5 linked regions of the Homo sapiens genome follow. The protein of the gene in region 4 interacts with the protein of the main gene of each other region in a pairwise test. Each region holds a gene or a part of one and is shown on either strand. Other genes may lie near its edges.

Evidence for each region.
Region 1: the proteins of GOLGA8F (region 4) and PDE4DIP interact in binary tests that used the Homo sapiens proteins (3 or more experiments, as listed by UniProt).
Region 2: the proteins of GOLGA8F (region 4) and ZNF471 interact in a two-hybrid assay, tested with the Homo sapiens proteins (one large-scale study listed by BioGRID).
Region 3: the proteins of GOLGA8F (region 4) and KCTD6 interact in binary tests that used the Homo sapiens proteins (3 or more experiments, as listed by UniProt).
Region 5: the proteins of GOLGA8F (region 4) and SSX2IP interact in binary tests that used the Homo sapiens proteins (3 or more experiments, as listed by UniProt).

Annotation. Positions count from the first base shown.
Region 1 is NC_000001.11:149,004,739-149,008,701, reverse strand, and holds part of PDE4DIP (myomegalin), read right to left. Parts: intron 3,794-3,963; coding exon 3,265-3,793; intron 1,502-3,264; coding exon 1,266-1,501; intron 259-1,265; coding exon 207-258; intron 1-206. UniProt on the Homo sapiens protein: Functions as an anchor sequestering components of the cAMP-dependent pathway to Golgi and/or centrosomes.
Region 2 is NC_000019.10:56,514,113-56,518,075, reverse strand, and holds part of ZNF471 (zinc finger protein 471), read right to left. Parts: intron 1,802-3,963; coding exon 1,675-1,801; intron 1-1,674. UniProt on the Homo sapiens protein: May be involved in transcriptional regulation.
Region 3 is NC_000003.12:58,495,051-58,499,013, reverse strand, and holds part of KCTD6 (BTB/POZ domain-containing protein KCTD6), read right to left. Parts: intron 650-3,963; exon of another isoform or gene 302-649; 5' UTR 259-301; coding exon 232-258; intron 1-231. UniProt on the Homo sapiens protein: Probable substrate-specific adapter of a BCR (BTB-CUL3-RBX1) E3 ubiquitin-protein ligase complex mediating the ubiquitination and subsequent proteasomal degradation of target proteins.
Region 4 is NC_000015.10:28,384,803-28,388,765, forward strand, and holds part of GOLGA8F (golgin subfamily A member 8F), read left to right. Parts: intron 1-322; coding exon 323-579; intron 580-846; coding exon 847-915; intron 916-2,286; coding exon 2,287-2,362; intron 2,363-2,799; coding exon 2,800-2,891; intron 2,892-3,465; coding exon 3,466-3,566; intron 3,567-3,648; coding exon 3,649-3,749; intron 3,750-3,838; coding exon 3,839-3,963.
Region 5 is NC_000001.11:84,652,269-84,656,231, forward strand, and holds part of SSX2IP (afadin- and alpha-actinin-binding protein), read right to left. Parts: intron 3,738-3,963; coding exon 3,564-3,737; intron 3,321-3,563; coding exon of another isoform or gene 3,197-3,320; intron 1-3,196. UniProt on the Homo sapiens protein: Belongs to an adhesion system, which plays a role in the organization of homotypic, interneuronal and heterotypic cell-cell adherens junctions (AJs).

The sequences.
Region 1 (3,963 bases), on a different chromosome or scaffold from region 4:
TAAGCCTGGAGAATTAATGTGCCAATATGATTCAACCAAAAGGGAAGAAAGAATTTAGTTAAAAACAACAGTGAGGTGTTCAATGAATGCCTGAATTCAATACATTCAGCACTTTGCTTTATTCCCCTTGATTTGTGGAGTTGCCGCCACCCTTGACCCTTTGGGCCTCGGTCCCAATCTCTTTCCCAGATTCTCCTCTGAATTACCTGAGGGCCAGTGGCTCAAGTCCAGCTTGATCTTTCTCACTTTTATGATCCTCTGTAAACCAAATTTAGAAAGAGACGATAAGAAATTAGGCTGGTCCCACTTCCCGCATTACAAATGCAGGAGCCTATCTGGAGACAGAGTAGTGAGCATTTCATGTGTGCATCCAGAACAGTTATTCTGGGATACCTCAGCTTGTGTCTCTAGAGAAGTGACCCCACTGTCCCTGACCTGCCGGTCACCATGATGACTTCCTCTGCCCTAAATCAGGGTAAAACATTTATAATGTCTTTTGTTCCATTAATCATGAGGCCCTTGCCCAGCTGCCCTGCGGGACACTCCAGCCTCCATGTCCTGCTGCAGACTAGCTCCCCAATGCATATGCCCCACCACAGCTTTCATGCAGAACCTGCACTGGTCTCTGAGGAGATGACAAGAAGCCCTGCCCCACCTCTGCATCTGCCACCAGGTGGTGGGCTGGGTGGCTCCCAAGTCTGATCCTACTTTACTCCCTTGGATAGTCGCTGGAAATTCTGAGTAGAAGACCCCAATAATAACCAATGTAGCCCTTGAACTACTGCAGCCAGTGCCTAAACCATGTATAAAAGAGCATGGCGCTTTATCCATATGTGGAGTACCTGCATGCACATTACCATGCCATAAATGGAGACACCACAAGGATAAGGCATTTAGCGAGTTGGTGGCAGCATCCAGGCCAGAGCTTGAGTCTTGTAGTTCTTGGTTCAGGGCTCTTCCTCCTATAACAAAGCCCTTCCATCTCATGTCCCCTACTCCCTCTTAGCATCAGAGAGATGCTGCCCCTGCCCCACAGGTCACATTCCATTAGTGGTGAAGTTTCTATAGTTGTAACCATGGCATCTCCAGCCCTGTGTTTTCCTCTCCATGCTCCCCACTGAGCAGTCTTGATCCTGTATTAGCCCCAGGAAATGAAATAGAAACAGGACCTTAGGATAAAAAGTTGCAGTGGAGATGTGGTGGCCACCAGGGGCTGGAACTGTGGGGGTGACTGAGAGTATTCCAAAGCCCTGTGGCCAACTTACTGGTGCTGAGTTTGCTGGTGAGCCTCTCTGTCAGCTGGCTTCCCTGGGCGAGTTGCTCCCGGAAGCTCTGTCCCAGGTAGTAGTCAATGTCATTGCTCCTTAGGAGATCCTCAAAAGATTTTACTGTATCTTTTGCATGCCGGGTGATAAGATAACAAATACCTCTCCCTTCTCGTATTTTTTGCCGTAGGTAAGACAGTTCCCGGGCCTGATCCTGAATCAGGGAATCATATTTCCTAATGCAGGACAGAAGAGGAAAGTGTAAGTATGGAAAGAGTGGAAGCTAACTTATGGAGTTATGGGGGCTTCTGTAGAGATTTCTATGAGAACATCTCTAAGGAACTCCCCCAAGCTGAATTCTGGCACATAAGCCATAGGAGGTATTTAAGAGTAAATTCTACCCTGATAAAGTATTGCATTAAAAAACTTAGTACGGGCCGGGCGTGGTAGCTCACGCCTGTAATCCCAGCACTTTGGGAGGCCAAGGCAGGCAGATCACAAGGTCAGGAGTTTGAGACCAGCCTCGCCAATATGGTGAAACCCTGCCTCTACTAAAAATACAAAAAAAATGAGCTGAGCATAGTGGCACATGCCTGTAATCCCAGCTACTCGGGAGGCTGAGGCAGGAGAATTGCTTGAACCTAGGAGGTGGAGGTTGTAGTTAGCCAAGACGGCACCACTGCACTCCAGCCTGGATGACAGAGTGACTCCGTATCAAAAAAAAATTTAGTATGTCACTGTTCTTCAACTGTTATACATGTGTTAATTATATGTCCCTAGATAAATCATAAGGTCTGTGAGAATAAACATAGTTCTGCATTTTACATCCCTTACAGCACCAGTATCACATAGATTCACAGCAGTTACTCAATGAATAATTAGCATCATTTCATCCTAAGTCTAGATAGAACCTTTCATGCCTTCTGTTTTAACCACCACCTGATGCCTGAATTTCTTCTATGTTACGATACTGTGGCTGACTACATTTTGCAATGATGGCCATCATTTAAACGCTCATACCATCAACTGATGGGACCCAAAACAAGAGACCCTAAGTGAGAACCACCCAGCTGAGCCCAGTCAAACCATAGAACCATGAAGCATAATAAAGTGTTGTTTGAAGTCACTAAGTTTTAGAGTGGTTATTACTTAGCAATAGATAACCAGGACACACCAAGATGAATGTCTGTGTTTTCAACACTAAGTATCAATAACACTTATAACTATGGCAAATAGCATTGAGAGCTTAACATATGCTAGGCACTATTCTAAGCACTTGTATTAATTCTTTTTTTTTTTTTTCCGAGACAGACTCTTGCTCTGTCACCCAGGCTGGAGTGCAGTGGTGCCATCTCGGCTCACTGCAACCTCCACCTGCCAGGTTCAAGCGATTCTCCTGCCTCAGCCTCCCGAATAGCTGGGATTACAGGTGTGCACCACCATGCCCAGCTAATCTTTGTATTTTTAGTAGAGATGGGGTTTCACCGTGTTGGGTAGGCTGGTCTCGAACACCTGACCTCAGGTGTTCTACCTGCCTTGGCCTCCCAAAGTGCTGGGATTACAGGCATGAGCCACCACGCCTGGTCAGCAGTTGTATTAATTCATTTAAACCTAATATCCACCCTTTGAGATGGGTTCTCTTATCATCCTCATTTAATAGGTAAGGACAAAGGCTCAGAAAGGTTAAGAAGGTTGCATGGGTAGTAAGCACCAGAGGTAGGTAGTCTGATTCCAGTATTACTACTATACTATACCATCTTTACTAATATATCCCTAAGAGGAAATCCCTGAGACCCGGTATCTCCCAGATACTGGAACATCATCCTATGCCCTCCTGGTTGCCTACCTGTCTTTTCTGCAGACCTGTATCTACCATTTAAATCAGTGTCCCTGTGAATACCCAGACATGTTCTTTCTTCCAACTGCCTGAGCTACCCTACGCCAAGCATGAACTTACACATTTTCAATCAAGAAAGTACCCAAACAGTGCCATCCTTACCCAGGCCACGAGGCTGATCTCAGCTCCTCAGCCAGCTTCTCTTCTAGTCCATTTTTTGGGAGCTGGGCCTCCAGCTGGGATACTCTCTGGATGAGACTCTCCAGGTCCTTTTTGGCCTGAAGCCCTGGAGAGTAGAAAGCCCCAGTGCCATCAGACAGCCACCCCTCATCCTCATCAGGGACACTATGAGGTGAAGACCCCTCCAAGGTGCCAACAGCTCTCAGCTTCCGGGGTCTTTCCAGACTAGACGAATAATCACTTGTAACTGAGAGGGACCGGACCCGGCTCTTGAGGTTTTGAATGACCTTGTTGGCATTCTGCAGCTGGGCCTTCAGATCTTTGATGTCCTTTCGTAGGACCAAGATGTTTTCTGACTTTCCATATACCCGGAACTCTTCCTGCTTCCCTAGCTGGTTCTCCAAGGGCTTCCTCTCAGAGGAACTAGCCAGTGTTGAGCCCCGGCGTCCCTGCTCAGAGCACAGCCCCTCCATCAGGACCATTTCCTTGAGGCTGTTGTGCTCCTCACACTCTGAAAAAAGACAAAGATGTCTTCCTAAATAAAAGTTGGATGTGCTGTTGTGGCCACTGCCTTTGAGAGGAGGCAGGTTTGGTCATGAGGACAATAATTACTAGGGAAAAAGTTGAAGTAGTACTTTATTCAACCCTGACACTGTACTAGGCATTCAAATACAATATTTC
Region 2 (3,963 bases), on a different chromosome or scaffold from region 4:
ACTTGACATAAGAAAAGGAAAAAGTGAATCATGCCCATTAGAAAAAGCAAGCAATAGACGCTCACACTGCAATAACGAAGAAGAAATAGCACATGATTTAAAAACAGCTATTATTATATCAATACTTAAGAATATAAAGGCAAATATGCTTGAAATAAATGTACACACAGGATATCTCAGAAACGAAACTACAAGAAGAACCAAATAAATATTATATAATTTAACAAATATAACATCTGAAACTTAAAAATTCACTAGATGCACCTAACCAAACATTGAGGGTAAGGATAGAGTCAGGGAATTTGACTATGAATCAACAGAAATTATCCAATCTGAGCTGGGCACAGTGGCTTACGCCTGTAATCCCAGCACTTTGGGATGCTGAGGTAGGCAGATCACCTGAGGTCAGGAGTTCAAGACCAACCTGAGCAACATAGTGAAACCCTGTCTCTATTAAAAATACAAAAATTAGGTCAGGCACAGTAGCTCACACCTGTAATCCCAGCACTTTGGGAGGCTGAGGCGGGCAGATCACGAGGTCAGGAGATCAAGACCATCCTGGCTAACATGGTGAAACCCCATCTCTACTAAAAAAATACAAAAAAATTAGCCAGGTGTGGTGGCAGGCACCTGTAGTCCCAGCTACTCAGGAGGCTGAGGCAGGAGAATGGCGTGAACCCAGGAGGCGGAGCTTGCAGTGAGCCGAGATGGTGCCACTGCACTCCAGCCTGGGCGACAGAGCGAGACTCCGTTTCAAAAAAAAAAAAAAAAAAAAAATTAGCTGGGTGTGGTGGTGGGTGCCTGTAATCCAGCTACTTGGGAGGCTAAGGCAGGAGAATTGCTTGAACCTGGGAGGTGGTGGGCCAAGATTGCGCCACTGCCCTCCAGCCTGGGCAACAGAGCAAGACTGTCTCAAAAAAAAAAAAAAAAAGAGAGCGAGAGAAAAATTAAAATTAAAACAGAACAAAGATTTTTAAAAGTGAAACAATCCTTAGTTACCTAGGGCACAATATCAAACAATCTAACATAGGTGTAACTGAAGTCCAAAACAGAAAAGAACAGAAAAAAAGATTTGAAGAAATAATGGCTAAAAATCTCCCAAATTTGGTTTAAGATATAAATTTAGTTTCAAGAAGCTCAATGAACCACAAGCATAATCAAAAGGGCTTCTGGAGAACAGAAAGCTAATCTAGCCAATGGGGTGGCCCCAGTGCTTAGAAGAAAGGTCCATAGGAATTTCCCTAACAGTAAGTGATCTGAAGCCATTTTCAGTTTGTGTCTTCAGTTTGTTACTTAATACAAAGATACAGATTTTAAAAGTGATATTCTGAATTTATAGTAATCTAGCTATATATTCTTTGTGAACCTTGTTGTTGTCTAGTGGTGATAGTAATTCTGTAGGAGAGAGAGAACAAGGAAACTGAGGAGACTGGTGAGATTCACATTGTGTCTTGTGTTCCCAATTGCCTTAAGGGTGTATGCATGGAATATTTGATATTCTCCAAATTCACTAACTCTAAATCTCAAGTTTTCTTCAGTCCCTCAATATCCTCTGTTTCTCAGATTCCATTCCCAAATTCCATTCTGACCTACATATAATAAAAGCAAATTTAATAATATATAGACAAAAAAGTTCCTTAAAGGTAGATTATGCAGGAGGGAAAAGATCCTCACCAAGTGATACCAGGCTCTGATAGTTCTCCAACATCATACTCCTGTATAAACGCTTCTGAGCAGGGTTCATCCATTGCCATTCTTCCTGGGAAAAATCTATTGCCACATCCTTGAATGTCACTAAGTCCTGAAGTGACAAATATATTCTTAACCAACCAATGCTCGTGTCCAAAGATAACTCTGAGTTGATCCAAAGTGTCTCTACTTTAGGTGAGAAATAACTCATAGAAGAGAAAAAACATAAATAGGAAGATCCAAGCCAAAACAGTACTTATGGAAGTGTTTAACTGCATTGGGTACAATGGGGCCAATCGATTCCGAACATAGGGAAATATGGGTGCATAACTACAAGGCAGTGAAGACGGCTTCAAGGGAGAACACACACCTGTGTTGAATCTTCAAAAGCATAAAAGGAATATCTAAACTGATATTTTTCAAATGATACTCCATGGGATCCAAGTTTTATTGGCAGGGGCTGGAGAAAGGCATTGAACTAATGTAGCTGATTTTTTTTTCTTAAATAATAAAAACATGTTTAAGAATGCAATTTTCTTAGGTCTGCATCAGTGAATACTGTGTTTTCCACCCACGGTTGGTAGAACCCACAGTTGCAGAACAAAATGAAATTGAAGTTATAACTTTTAAATATTCTTAGAGAAAAATTAATGACCAGTTATAATCACCAGCAGCTTGTAAGAAATTTTAAAAGTTATTGTGGGCATTTTTCACCTTCAGATTTACTTCCGTTGAAAATGAATATCTTCTTAATCTTAGTGCCTGATTTGCAAAGTTATCAAAAATATAACTAAAGACAAGGTTATGAGCACATTTTAATTCGCTTTAAACAGTAATCTCTGTATCATGTCTTTGTTCTGAAGATTAGTGTTTAAAAGCACATTTTAAACAGATATTCAATGTACGGGACTTTAGAAGATATACATACCTTTAGGAAAATGTTTAATATATTTTTCATATAAAAGAATTACAAAATTGTTTACATTTCTCTGTGTACTCACAGTTTTACTGAATTCTAGTTTTCACCTTCTAGTGAGTTGAGAACTAAGAACCATCATTTCACATATTCTTATAAAATGAGATGTATTCCTCAATGCAAGCAAAAGGTGTTCACATTCTTTCCAATATTTAGGATAATTTTGCTGACTATTAAGGACAGAGGAGCTTTGGCTGTTCCCACAGAAAAAACTGCTTTTGATCCTGGTACTTATGGTTAGTAATCTAGTATATATACTACCAGAATTTTACCAATATCTATAGAATAACTTTACATATATGTATGCATGTATATGTAGTGATTTTTTTTAACTGATAATGCTATAACCAATGAAGTAAATCCCAATGGATAGCATCTGAAGAGCTTGTAATTCTTTTTTCTTTTTAAGGACACAACCATTTATTGCAAGGTATCAGATAATTTATGAAATTTCCAGGAGGATTAATACTGAGTAAGTGACTAAATTAAGACTAAATAAATAAATGAGGAAAATAGGCAAATATCTCATTTAGAAGATCTTTCAAATGATTTATGTTTGCCCTTAAGGAGGTAGAACATAATTTCCCACTTCTGGAGTGTAGGTTGTGCATAGTGACTTCCTTACAAACAGTACAGTATGGAAAAGTGAGGGAAAAAAGAGTAACCTTATTATAGAGAAACCTGACAAACACTACCTCAAAGTTAATTAAGTTAACATCTATTAACATCAACAGTAATAAATCATGTTTACAGTGTGCACCCCTGATTTGATGTGATGAAAAAGGAACTTTACCTCTGCAGTCTTCCTCCCCAAAACACAGTACCCTAGTCTAATCATGAAAAAGCATCAGATTTGAGACATTCTACAAAATAACTGAGTATTCCTCAAAGCTGACAAGGTCATCGATAAGCAAAGTATGAAAAACTATCACAGCTAAGAGGAGTCTTAGGAAATATGACTATTAAATGTAATGTAATTTCCTAGATAGAATCCTGGCACAGAAAAAAAACATTAGATAAAACCTAAGAAAGCCTGGCCGGGTGCAGTGGCTTACACTTATAATCCCAGCACTTTGGGAGGCCAAGGCCGGTAGATCACTTGAGGCCAGGAGCTCAAGACCAGCCTACATAGCATGGCAAGGACAACATGGCAAAACCCCACCTCTACCAAAAATACAAAAATTGGCTGTGCATGGTGGTGCATGCCTATAATCCCAGCTACTCGAGTGGCCGAGGCACGAGAATTGCTTGAACTGGAGAGGCAGGTTATAGTGTGCTATGATCCTGCCACTGCACTC
Region 3 (3,963 bases), on a different chromosome or scaffold from region 4:
TGGGCAAGAAGGCGAGACTCCACATAAAAAAAATTAAATAAAAATTTAAAAAACACCACACAAGACAAAAACGCCTCCAAAATACATCTAAACTAAGTAAAAGGGGGAAGAGAGGTTACACAAATTCACAATTTTCTTTTCTTATAAGATATACCTAAAAATACATAAGGATAAAAAGACACACAAAAATAATTCCCCAGCCTTCAAAATGCATCTCCAAGAAGCACTCACCATATAGCCCCAGTCTCCATTATCCATCTGCTCCAGTGATGCGTCTTCAAGAGCCCAGGTTTCAGGGAAACTTCAAGAGGAGAAAAACAGACATATGATAGCATATATAACTAGGAAAATAGAGAAGAAAGTCTTTTTCCACCCAACAGAGGAGGCCAAACACCAGAAAAACTACTCGTCCTTGCTCAGCTGAAACCTACTACAGGGCAAAGATCTGGGGAAGAAAGCATTCCCCTAGGGCCTTCTACATGTCCTGTATTCTTACCATAGAGAACCCATCTGGAACTAAGAGACTGAAGATTTTCAGAGAAAGAACTATACTGTACTTAAGAGAAGGAGGAAGAGTCTAGGAAGTAACCCAGTCATTCAAATTCTACCTCTCTTCTTAGAACATCAATTTTTAGAATTTATATAAGAGAATATTATGATTAACTCTACAACCTTATCCTGGTACAAACCTATAATGGTCCTCACCAAAAAGGTCATTTAAGAAAAAGGGACAGGCTGGGCGCAGTGGCTCATGCCTATAATCCCAGCACTTTGGGAGGCTGAGGCAGGAGGATCACCAGGTCAGGAGTTCAAGACCAGACTGCCCAACATAGTGAAACCCCATCTCTACTAAAAATACAAAAAATTAGCTGGGCGTGGTGGTGGGCACCTGTAATCCTAGCTATTCAGGAGGCTGAGGCAGGAGCATCACTTGAACCCGAGAGGCGGAGGTTGCAGTGAGCCGAGACTGTGCCACTGCACACCAGCCCCTGCAACAGTGCGAGACTCCATCTCAAAAAAAAAAAAAAAAAGAAAAGAAAAGAAAAAGGGAGAAGGGAAAACTCCTTTTCATCAGCATTTCAGCTATACAAGCCAATCACCTGAGTAAAAACATCAAAAATCATAAACCTCCCAGGATACCAGCATCCCTTTCCAAGAGAAATACATCAGAATGGTATTTATCTTACAATATAAAAAAAAAAGATGATGCTTTTAAATAATGATGTATTTCTCTTTGTACAATTAAAACAAATAGAAAGTGATTTAAATGCCGAAGTGTTAAAGAGCACAATTTGGGGCAAAAAGAACCTTACCGATATAGATGAGAGTCAATCAGCCAGCACTCATGGAGAGCCAGCCTTAAGACACTGAGAAATGCTCAGATACTAATGATGCCAATGTGAATTTATTTTTATCTACAATTCAAAAGCATTTAAACAAACAGTTTCCCAGCTACTGAACTGCCTTAGTCAGTTCCCTCTCACACACTTCAATCCCAAATCAACCTGTAAAGCAAACTGCAGAGCAAATTTCTAAAGCTCTGGCAAGACATGGTAAGAAACATGGACTTATTGGTATTCATCCAGGAAAAGCACTGGCTTTTTTACGTGGTCCTTTAACAGATTCACTTTTCCCACTTTTAGAGGAATCTGGCACAGAATTCCCAGAACAAGCCCTAGCTACAGAAGATCACAAAGGCTCTTTCTCAAAAGGTCACTCAGGCATGTAGAGAACATTTGCATAGCACAGCATGGGCTGAAATCAGAGCCTGAAGCATCTATTTCTCTACCTTGCAAATCCTTCAAAGCACACAACTAAAATGTGGACCAGACTATGGGGCAGTCAGTTTTTATTCTTTACACTCAGCAGTTGGATATAGACAGGCCTCCACATGCTATGGGGTGAGAAATGGAACAAATGTCAAATTCAAGACTGTTATGACAGTCTTTCATTCCTCTGACTTGCTTCACAAATAGTATCCGAAGTAAACAGGACCAAGAAATGGGCTTTGCCAATTTGTCTTGCCAGGATCTGATTCAGTTACTGATAACAACAGATTAGTAACTGAGCAATTTAAAAGGCCACTCATCCAAAAGTTCTGGTAAGATGCTCATCTTTGGCATTTTCCCATCACCCAAAGTATTCATTCTGACAGCCTCAATAATCATTCATTCAGCCAACAATTATTGTGGGTCACCTATGGAGTGGAGGGGGTGCCTATGTGCAATGCGGACACACAGAAAGAGGAAAAAGACAATCTTTGCCCTCATGGAGCTTTCCATCTATAATGGAAGGCAACATGCAATGACTGAAGTACAGAACAGAATTCAAAGTGCTGTATAACAGATGGACCAGCAGAGGCCCGTGAGAGGGGAAAAGCAAGATTTCAAATGGGAAATAGAGGACTTCTGGGAAGAGCCCATTCAGTTGAATCCTTGAAAGAAAATTCGGACAACCTGAGAAGGGATTCTAGAAGGAAGAAACAATTTAATAGACAGGGGCATGAAAGACTTTTTTTCCCCCTACAACATTCCTGATACCAGTAGGCCGAGCAGGGATTACTATCCTCATCTTAAAGATGCAAAACAGAGAAACAAGGCAGATTAAGTGACTAGCTGAGGGCGCCACAGCTGGGAAGTAACTAGATAAGAACTTGCATGTTCTGACTCTTAGTCTAGATTTTTCCATAAATCCCCTCCTAGGGTAGAAATTGAAAGAACAGAATCCAAGAGACAAGAAATTGAAAAAGCTTAACTTTAAACTCTCTATAGCCATCTATTAACCCTATCCATCCAGTAGGGTTTTATTTACAAATTTTACAGTAACTCAGCCTAACTAAACAGTCATAATGGGTTTGTAAAAATTCTCCTGAGGCCCCCCCACCAAAAAAAGGCAGGAACCCATTCAACTAGTGTGAATAACGGTTGCTGTCCTGTCTGTAGTGACATAAAGAACTCCAATCCGTGAATATCCAAATGATTAAATGAGAAACAGAAGATCAAAGACAAGGAAAAAAGCAGACATCAATGTTGCAGCCGTTAACGAAAAGTCTGTCCACTATTAACCCTTTTTTTCTTTTTTACTGCTAAATCAAAACAAGGTAACTTCTTGAGCAGTTATCTAAAAAAAAAAAAAAAAAAATTAGACGATGTCCCTGAATCTGTTCCACAGCAAAAGCAAAAGTTCCGGTACAAAGATGTAATGAAAGCTCACGCTTAATAATTCAGGAAAGCAATTATGGGAATCTACAGCCCATGTTTCTTAAAAACCACCCAAAAGCCTTCCTATACTTGTGTATAAGATACATCAAAATAAATTGAAGCAAAGTTACTATTAGTCACTTCCAATAACAATGAGTAAACTGTCTAAAGAAATCAAATTGTGCATTAAAGAGTTCAAAGGGAAAAAACAGTATTGATTAGTTTAAATTTTATCTCTACCTGCTTCTAAATATCTTCTGTGGAGATGCTTAAATACAGCAAGAAACAAACAAACAAAAAAAAAGCATGAAAAATTCCCTGTTATCCAATAGCTGGATAATGATCGGCTTCTGAATTCTGAATTGACGACCATTAGGAACATCTCTGAAACGATGCAGATGAATGAAATACAATCCCAAAGAATTTCCAGAATAGTTTCAATCTCTTCTACTGAATCATTTTCCAGAGCTACTAACAATTAGAAAATGATTCATTTGCTTTTCATCTTCTCTCCCTTCTGGCACAGTCTCCAGTGGAGGGCTTAATGAGAAGTTAAATGACCACAAGACAGGCAGCAGAAGGAAGATCTTGAAATGGGTATCAAATAGGCCTATTTTACTTGATGAAAGCAAAGAAATATCTAATATTTCAGAAAATCTACCAGGAATGGTAACAATAAAAAATTTTTCCTTTATAGTGACTTTCCTTACTAAAACTAAAGATGGTTTTGAAAGACAGCAAATGCAACCGAGCACAAACAGCT
Region 4 (3,963 bases):
CCCAGCGAGGTGGGTGGATGGAAGGGCTTTGAGGCAGAGGGAAAGAGGTCTGTGCCAGGAGACGGCAAGTCTTGTCATCTCAATGAGCCTCAGTGTCCCCATCAGCAAAGAGGGCCCGTTGTCAGCCACCCGCAGTGCTCTTTCTCTGAAAGTGCTTTGGAAGACTGGCTACCATCTGGGTGCGAGGAATCATTAGCAGTGAGGCTAAGTTTGAGGAGCCGGAGAGGAGCTGTGCGCCAAGAGGAGGGTTTTTTCTTTTCTTTTCTTTTTTTTTTTTTTTTTTTGGAATCCAGAGGCTCTTATTGTCTGCTTCCTTTCTCAGCTGAACCTCTGCCCCCGGAGCCCCCAGCAGTGCCCTCTGAGGTGGAGCTGCAGCACCTGAGGAAGGAACTAGAGAGAGTGGCAGGAGAGCTCCAGGCCCAGGTGGAGTACAATCAGCGCATAAGTCTCCTGAATGAGGGGCAAAAGGAGAGGCTTCGGGAGCAGGAGGAGAGGCTTCAGGAGCAGCAGGAGAGGCTTCCAGAGCAGGAGGAGAGGCTTCAGCAGCTGGCCGAGCCACAGAACAGCTTCAAGGAGCTGGTGCGTTGCCCCAGCTGGGGAGCCTGCCCTCCTCCCTAGCCCTCCAGGCCTTTGTTTCCCCACCTATAAAATGGGGCAGTGTAGCCCTCAAGTGAAATGTTACTCCTAAAGGCACCTGTGAGCCAGAGCCCTGCTCTGGTGGCTGTGGGAGACAGGGGATGATTTTTCTAACCTGCCTCCACCCTTCCCGGTGCCATGGGAGGCAGTCACCAAGTTCTGGGGTCTCCAGCTGCAGTGGGTGGCTGCTGATTGCTTCTCTCTGTCCAGAACAATGAGAACAAGAGCGTACTACAGTTGGAGCAGCAAGTAAAGGAGCTGCAGGAGAAGCTAGGCAAGGTGAAGGAGACGGTAACCTCCACCCCATCCAAGAAGGTCTGGGAGGTGGGTGGGCACCAGCCTCTGGGGAGGGGAGGTGCCAGTCCAGCGGTAGCTCCAGCCCGGGGGCAGGTGACCCCAGCACCCTCCAGGGCAGTCCTGTGGCTGTTTCTTGCTTCCTGCCCTCTGATTTTAGAGGTGGGTAGCCCTGGGCTCCTCCCAGGTCTGGACATCATCATTCCAGCTAGAGACATGGAGCCCCCCCAATCACAGGGGAAGAGACAGAGTGGTATAACAGTCTTCTTATGCCAGATGCGGTGGCTTACGCCTATAGTGCCAACACTTTGGGAGGCTGAGGCAGGAGAATCACTTGAGGTTTGGAGTTTGAGATCAGCCTGGCCAACATGGTAAAACCTCATCTCTACTAAAATTACAAAAACAAAAAACAAAAAAAGAAAGAAAAATTAGTGGGGCATGGTGGTGGCGCATGCCTGTAATCCCACCTACTCAGGAGGCTGAGGCACGAGAATTGCTTGAGCCCAGGAGGTGGAGGTTGCAGTGAGCTGAGATTGCACCACTGCACTCCTGCCTGGGCCACAGAGTGACACTCTGTCTCAAAACAAAACAAAAAGACTCCTTAGATTAAAACTGGATTCCAGCCTCAGTTCCACTGGTCACCATTCAAGTACTTCGCATCTCTAAGTCTCTGTTTCTTTAACTTCAAAAGGAAGTTAGCATTTTCCTTACAGAGGTGCTGAGGATTAAATGAGATAATACATGGGAAGCATTAGGCCTGTAGCACATTTAGCAGATGGTGGTTGGCTCCCATACTTTTCTACCATTCTGTGGCCTACAGTTGAAATGGTGGGAAGAGGACATGAGATTTGAGGCTGGGGAAGGAGGCATGGGGTTCTAGGAAAGCAAGGCAGTCACTTAGGCCTGAAGTAAGGGGCCAGGGGCCTGGGCAGGCGACAGAGCCCCACAGTGCCCTCGCTACCCTATTAATGGGCCCAGAATCTGCAAACCAGCCACCACGTGCCCTCACACCCAGGGTCTTCCTGCAGGTGGAGCTGAAGAGCCAAGAGGCTCAGAGTCTGCAGCAGCAGCCAGACCATTACCTGGGTCACCTGCAGCAGTACGTGGCCACCTATCAGCAGCAGGTGGCCGCCTATCAGCAGCTGACCTGTGAGAAGGAGGCGCTGTACAGGCAGTGACTGCAGCAGACCCAGCTAATGAACCAGTTGCAGCAGCAGGAAGCTTGGGGCAAAGCGGTGGCCGAGATGGCCTGCCAAAAGTTGCAGGAGACCCAGGGGAGGGAGCTGCCGAGGATGGGGCTGTGAGGGGGACGACCTGGCAAACTCTGTGCCTTCTCACTCTTTCCTGGCCCCTTAGGAGCGTCTGGAAGCTGCGAGCCAGCAGAAACAGCAGCTAACGGCCCAGTTGAGCCTCATGGCTCTCCCTGGGGAAGGTACGGGAGACCGCTCAGAGGAAGAGGAGAGAGCCCCAGGAGGAAGGGGGGACTGCTAGCAGCATAGGATTGAGGAGTTGGAAGAGACCTTTAGAACAGCTGGTCATTATACTAACCGGGTGCCTGCACTAAGTTCAGCATCAATATGGTGACCTCCTGTGAGCGGGGGGCCACCAAGTTGCCTAAGGATGGCTGAACTGGCCGAGGTCAGAAAGGGAGCAGGTCAGAACTCCCGCACCGACCAGTAGTGGGAATGTGCCTGGGCAGTATAGCAAGATCTTGGTTCTTCAAAGTAAAAATAAATAACAGCAGCTCATTCCTCTCTGGGGAGGGCCTGGCTCAGGGTTACACAATGAGGGTGGAGGCAGAGGTGGGCCCACAATACTTCCCTTGTTGAGTTGTCTGAGGACCCCTCTGGCCACCACCCCCACCCCCAGGAGATGGAGGAGGACATCTGGACAGTGAGGGGGAGGAGGCACCTCGGCCCATTCCTAGCATCCCACAGGACCTGGAGAGCAGGGAGGCCATGGTGAGCCTGACTCCACCTGAACCCATTTTGCCTCCTTCCTCTGTGGTCCCTCCAAGACCCCTTTATGCTCTTCGTTTCCCTGCCTTCTGATTTCTCTGGACCCTCACCCCTTCTGGGAGCCAGTGGTCAGACACCATTTCACCTGTGACCAACATGTGCAGTCTCTGGGGCCCCAAGGGAAGGGGCTGCGCTCCACCTCTCTGCCCCATTTGTTCTGTGTATGCCCCTGCAAGAATGCTCACATCTTGCCCTCAGGTGGCATTTTTCAAGTCCGCTGGAGCTAGTGCCCAGGAGAAGCAGGCACAGTTACAAGAGCAGGTGAAAGAGCAGAGGGTGTGCTGCCAGCGCCTGGCTCACCCGGTGGCCTCGGCCCAGAAGGAGCCAGAGGCAGCCAGAGGCCCTGGAGCCCCAGGGCCTGGGGGCGAGTCTGTGAGTGGGGAGACCCACCGGGCCCTGCAGGAAGTCACGGAGAAGCTGGCCCATGCCGGAACTCACCTCCGCCTTCTCCATGACTTGAAAATGCCACCTGAGGGCAGGTCGCTGGCGAGATGTGACCCCATTATTTTGGCTCCAGAGCGGCTTTATGGACCACCTGGAGGAGAAGGCAGACCTGAGTGAGCTGGTGGAGAAAGAAGAACTTGGATTCTTCCAGTACTACAGAGAGAGATGCCATCAGTGAGTGGGAGGCCAGGGCATGGCAGGGGGAGCTGCAGGGCTGTTGGAGGGGCCCCAGCGTCTGAGCCCTGTCCTCCCGCAGGAAAGTTTATCACCCTATAACAAAGCCAGGGGGCAGTGCCAAAGATGCAGCACCGGGAGGAGGACACCATCAGGCTGGCCCTGGACAGGGAGGAGATGAAGGTAGAGTGTGCAACATCTCTGCGGGGGTGGGGGTGGCTGTGACGGTGAGCGCTGGCAGCAGCGTGACAGCTGAGCACCCCTCCCTCCAGGTGAAGCTGCTGGAGCTGCAGGAGATGGTGTTGCAGCTGGTGGCGACTACAAGGGACACAGCAAATTCTTGGTGACTGCCCAGAACCCTGCTCATGAGCCCAGTCCAGGAGCCCCAGCCCCCCAG
Region 5 (3,963 bases), on a different chromosome or scaffold from region 4:
AAACATCAGCTGGGCATGGTGGCACAGGACTACAGTCTCAGCTACTTTGGAGGCTGAGGAGGGAGGATGGCTAGAGGCTGGGAAGTTGACGCTGAAGTGAGCCGAGATAGCACCACTGCACTCTAGCCTAGGTGACACGGCAAGACCGTATCTCCAAAAAAAAAAAAAAAAAAAAAAAAAAAGCCGGGCGCAGTGGCTCATGCCTGTAATCCCAGCACTTTGGGAGGACAAGGTGGGCGGATCACAAGGTCAGGAGTTTGAGACCAGTCTGGCCAACATGGTGAAACCCCATCTCTACTAAAAATACAAAATTTAGCCGGGCATGGTGGCGTGCGCCTGTAGTCCCAGCTACTCAGGAGGCTGAGGCAGGAGAATCACATGAACCCAGGAGGCAGGGGTTGCAGTGAGCTGAGATCGCACCCCTGCACTCCTGCCTGGGCAACAAAGCAAGGCTCCATCTCAAAAAGCAAAACACGGCCGGGCACGGTGGCTCACGCCTGTAATCCCAGCACTTCGGGAGGCCAAGGCGGGTGGATCACGAGGTCAGGAGATCGAGACCATCCTGGCTAACATGGTGAAACCCCGTCTCTACTAAAAATACAAAACAAAAAAAATTAGCCGGGTGTGGTGGCGGGTGCCTGTAGTCCCAGCTACTCAGGAGGCTGAGGCAGGAGAATGGCATGAACCCAGGAGGCAGAGCCTGCAGTGAGCCAAGATCACGCCACTGCACTCTAGCCTGGGCAACAGAGTGAGACTCCATCTCAAAAAAAAACAAAAACAAAAAAACTAAGAAAAATTTCACTTACGAAAAAATTATGTTTAAAAAATAGAAATTCATCTGTTTCACCTAATAAACCAACCATCACTGTCTTCATATCAATTTTAAGTTCAAATAAACAATGCAAAAAATGGAACAGAATATTAGCATAACTTTTGAACATACAAAACATTATAAAGTTACAAACAAAAGAAAAATAATCTATATTGTAAATTAGTCACTTGAAAAACAGGACCTATGACTTCATCAAGCATTTCTCTCATCCTCTAGCCATCTACCAGTACTGGTAGCCACCACCACTAAACCACAAGAGGGCATAGGCAAATTATGTCAAACCTCCCCCTTCTGAATAGCTGATGAATCCTAAACTAAATTCTCCATCAGCCCTCAGGTCTTGCATGCCTCCCTCCCATCCCTCACTATGCCCACTGTCCCAGTGACCAGACGGAGAAAAATTCTCTTGCAGGGAAAGGCACCTGGCAACTGGGAGCAATATGCAAAGTAGCAAGAGTAATTACTCTCTTGGAGTAATGTGGGGAATAAGGGCTTGGAAACAGGTAGGAGACAATGCTGGTCAAGTGTTGTTCCCTGAAGATAGCTACTGATGAAACAGACGTTCACACTGTGAACTGAGGAAATCCACGTCAGCTACTGAAAACAAGCAACACACAGTCTTTCATTCATAAATATTGATACAGAATCACGCATCACCAAACATTGAGAAAACTAATATAGAAAAAAGGTCAAGATAAATAGAAAACTGACCATGGATAAGAGATAATTCAACAGATGAAAGAAATCTTTTTTAAAAATGTAACAAATATTATCAGATTAATAAACATCTGTAAAATACCATCATGCTATATAAAGAAAAGCAAAAATTAAGGACATTAGAAAAATTTAAAGATAAATTCTGAAGCAAAGACTCAGTGGCTAAAGCAAATAATAAAACTGACCCTGAAAGGCCAGTTTCGTGATCTCTAAGATAAAGGTAAGAGAATATCCCAGAATTGAGAACAAAAGTCAACCTGTAGATATATATTCAGAAGGCCAAATGTGTGTCTAACAAAAGTTCCAGAACACAGAGAAGTCAAAGAAGGAAAAAATAAAGAAGAAAATTTCCCTAAATTAAAGAAATACAGAATCTTTAGGATGAAAGGAACTCTCTAGAAGTATCCTGGTAAAATTTCCAAACTTTAAGAAAATACCAAAGCTTCCACAGAGGGAGATAGAAAACAAAACACAGTTATCTACAAAGTAACACAGGTATATTACAATCAGGCTTCTCATCAGTAAAACTAAACACTAGGAGAAATGGAATAATTCAAAGTTTTGAAGGAAAAAAAACTGGAATCTAAATTCTATACACAGCCAAACCAATCAAGTATGAATATATTTTTGACTATTCCAGAATTCAGAATGTTTACAGCTCATGCACTATTTATAAAAAAAAAATTACTCAAGAATTAGTAATTACTCAATTACTAATATAGCGAATTGAACAGAAACCCAAGAAAGACAGTAACATGAGATATGAGCAACATGGCAGCTGAAATCTGATTCAGGAAATCACAAAGGAAGCTACAGAGAAAAAGAATTCACTAGATAGTGATATATCTCTCTGGGTGGCAAAGTCTTAATAATACAGAATATTTTCTGTGTCCAAACATATTTGGTTATAGAATAACATTTACATAATTGTAGTATTATCAATTTTCTTTCCTGGTTTTCCAACTTTTAAGTCTCAAGTTTAGACAAAGTACTTATACCTGGATTGTATTAGAGGACAAACTATGAATGTGATAACAATGAAAAATAATATCACAAAAATTGCAAAGTAGTACAGCAAGAGAGGTAGAACAAGAGTAACAACAAGAAAGTCCTCAGCTTTCACTGCAGGGATGAACTGATACTGACTGAAGTTGAACAAACATGAAATGGAAGCTTTTTATTATTTCCTTAAAGCAAAAAAAAGGCAAGCAGACGAACAAGAGGAACAATATTATGAAGACATGAGATGTGAATGAGGAAGGGTGTAGGTAGGAGGTACAATAAGGACACAGAATTCCTTATCTTTCATAGCAGGGAATCAATGAACTGATAAACAAGAAAACTTGAAATACATTAAAAGTTAAAATAGTACTTCCTAGAAGAATTTCCAACAGATACTTTTTAACAGCAGTTACCTCTAAGGAATGAAACTGAGGATGAGAAAGGAGGATACTTTCTTACTTTGTAGCTTTTTTTAATGAGTTTTGTTGATTTTTTTTTTTTAACCTTATTCAGACATTACTGCTACAATTTTTGAAGGGGGAATATGTAGATGACACATTGCTAAGTAAAAAAAGCAAGCTGTAGAGCGTATATATAACAATGATGGACTGGGGAGAAGAGAACTTAATTTTTTATTATACTTCCTTTTTAAACAGCAAATATAGTCTTGGTTGCACTGTCTTCTGACACCACACCTACTGACCGTGGATGAATGATGGATACCCAAAAGAGATTTCTTGTGTAAAACACTTAGCAGGAGAAAGCCAATCTGAAAGCAGTAATAAATGCTTATAGCGTTTTTTTTTCTTAAGTTCAATTCTCAAATCTGGTAAGGGGAAATGATCCCATTCTATATGCTCAGCCTCCCTCTCATTTCAAATTATTTGTGAGATCACCAGTAAATATTTTAGAAAATAAGTAAATAGCAAGAAAAAAAGGAGACCTTAGAAGCATTCTACTGAGGCCCACCCACCCCCAGTATTTTCAAAAGCACTACAATTGTTTAAAATACCTCCAATCCCAGGCGAATAGCGGCTTCTGTAAAGCTTCGTCTCTCCCTCTCAAAATTCTTTTTCTGCTCTTTAAAAAGGGACCATTCTTCTTTGAGACGTTCCTTTTCTTCCAACAAATAACAGTCTCGTAATAGTGAAGTGGTATCATCATCATATGCAGTAGCGAGCTGCTGCTATTAAAATTTAAAACATAGTAAGTTCCTGAGGGACCTTGCGACACTCCAACGAGTTGAAATGAAAGCAAGGGAAGGCCAGTCAAACTTCAGGGCAGGAATAGAAATTATTAAGAATCAAAAAGTCAAATGAGAATTCTCATTTCCCGAAACCTACTACCCCAACTAGCAAAGTATGGACTATTTAAGGAGTGGTACACAATGTATCTGTTAGCAGGGAACACAG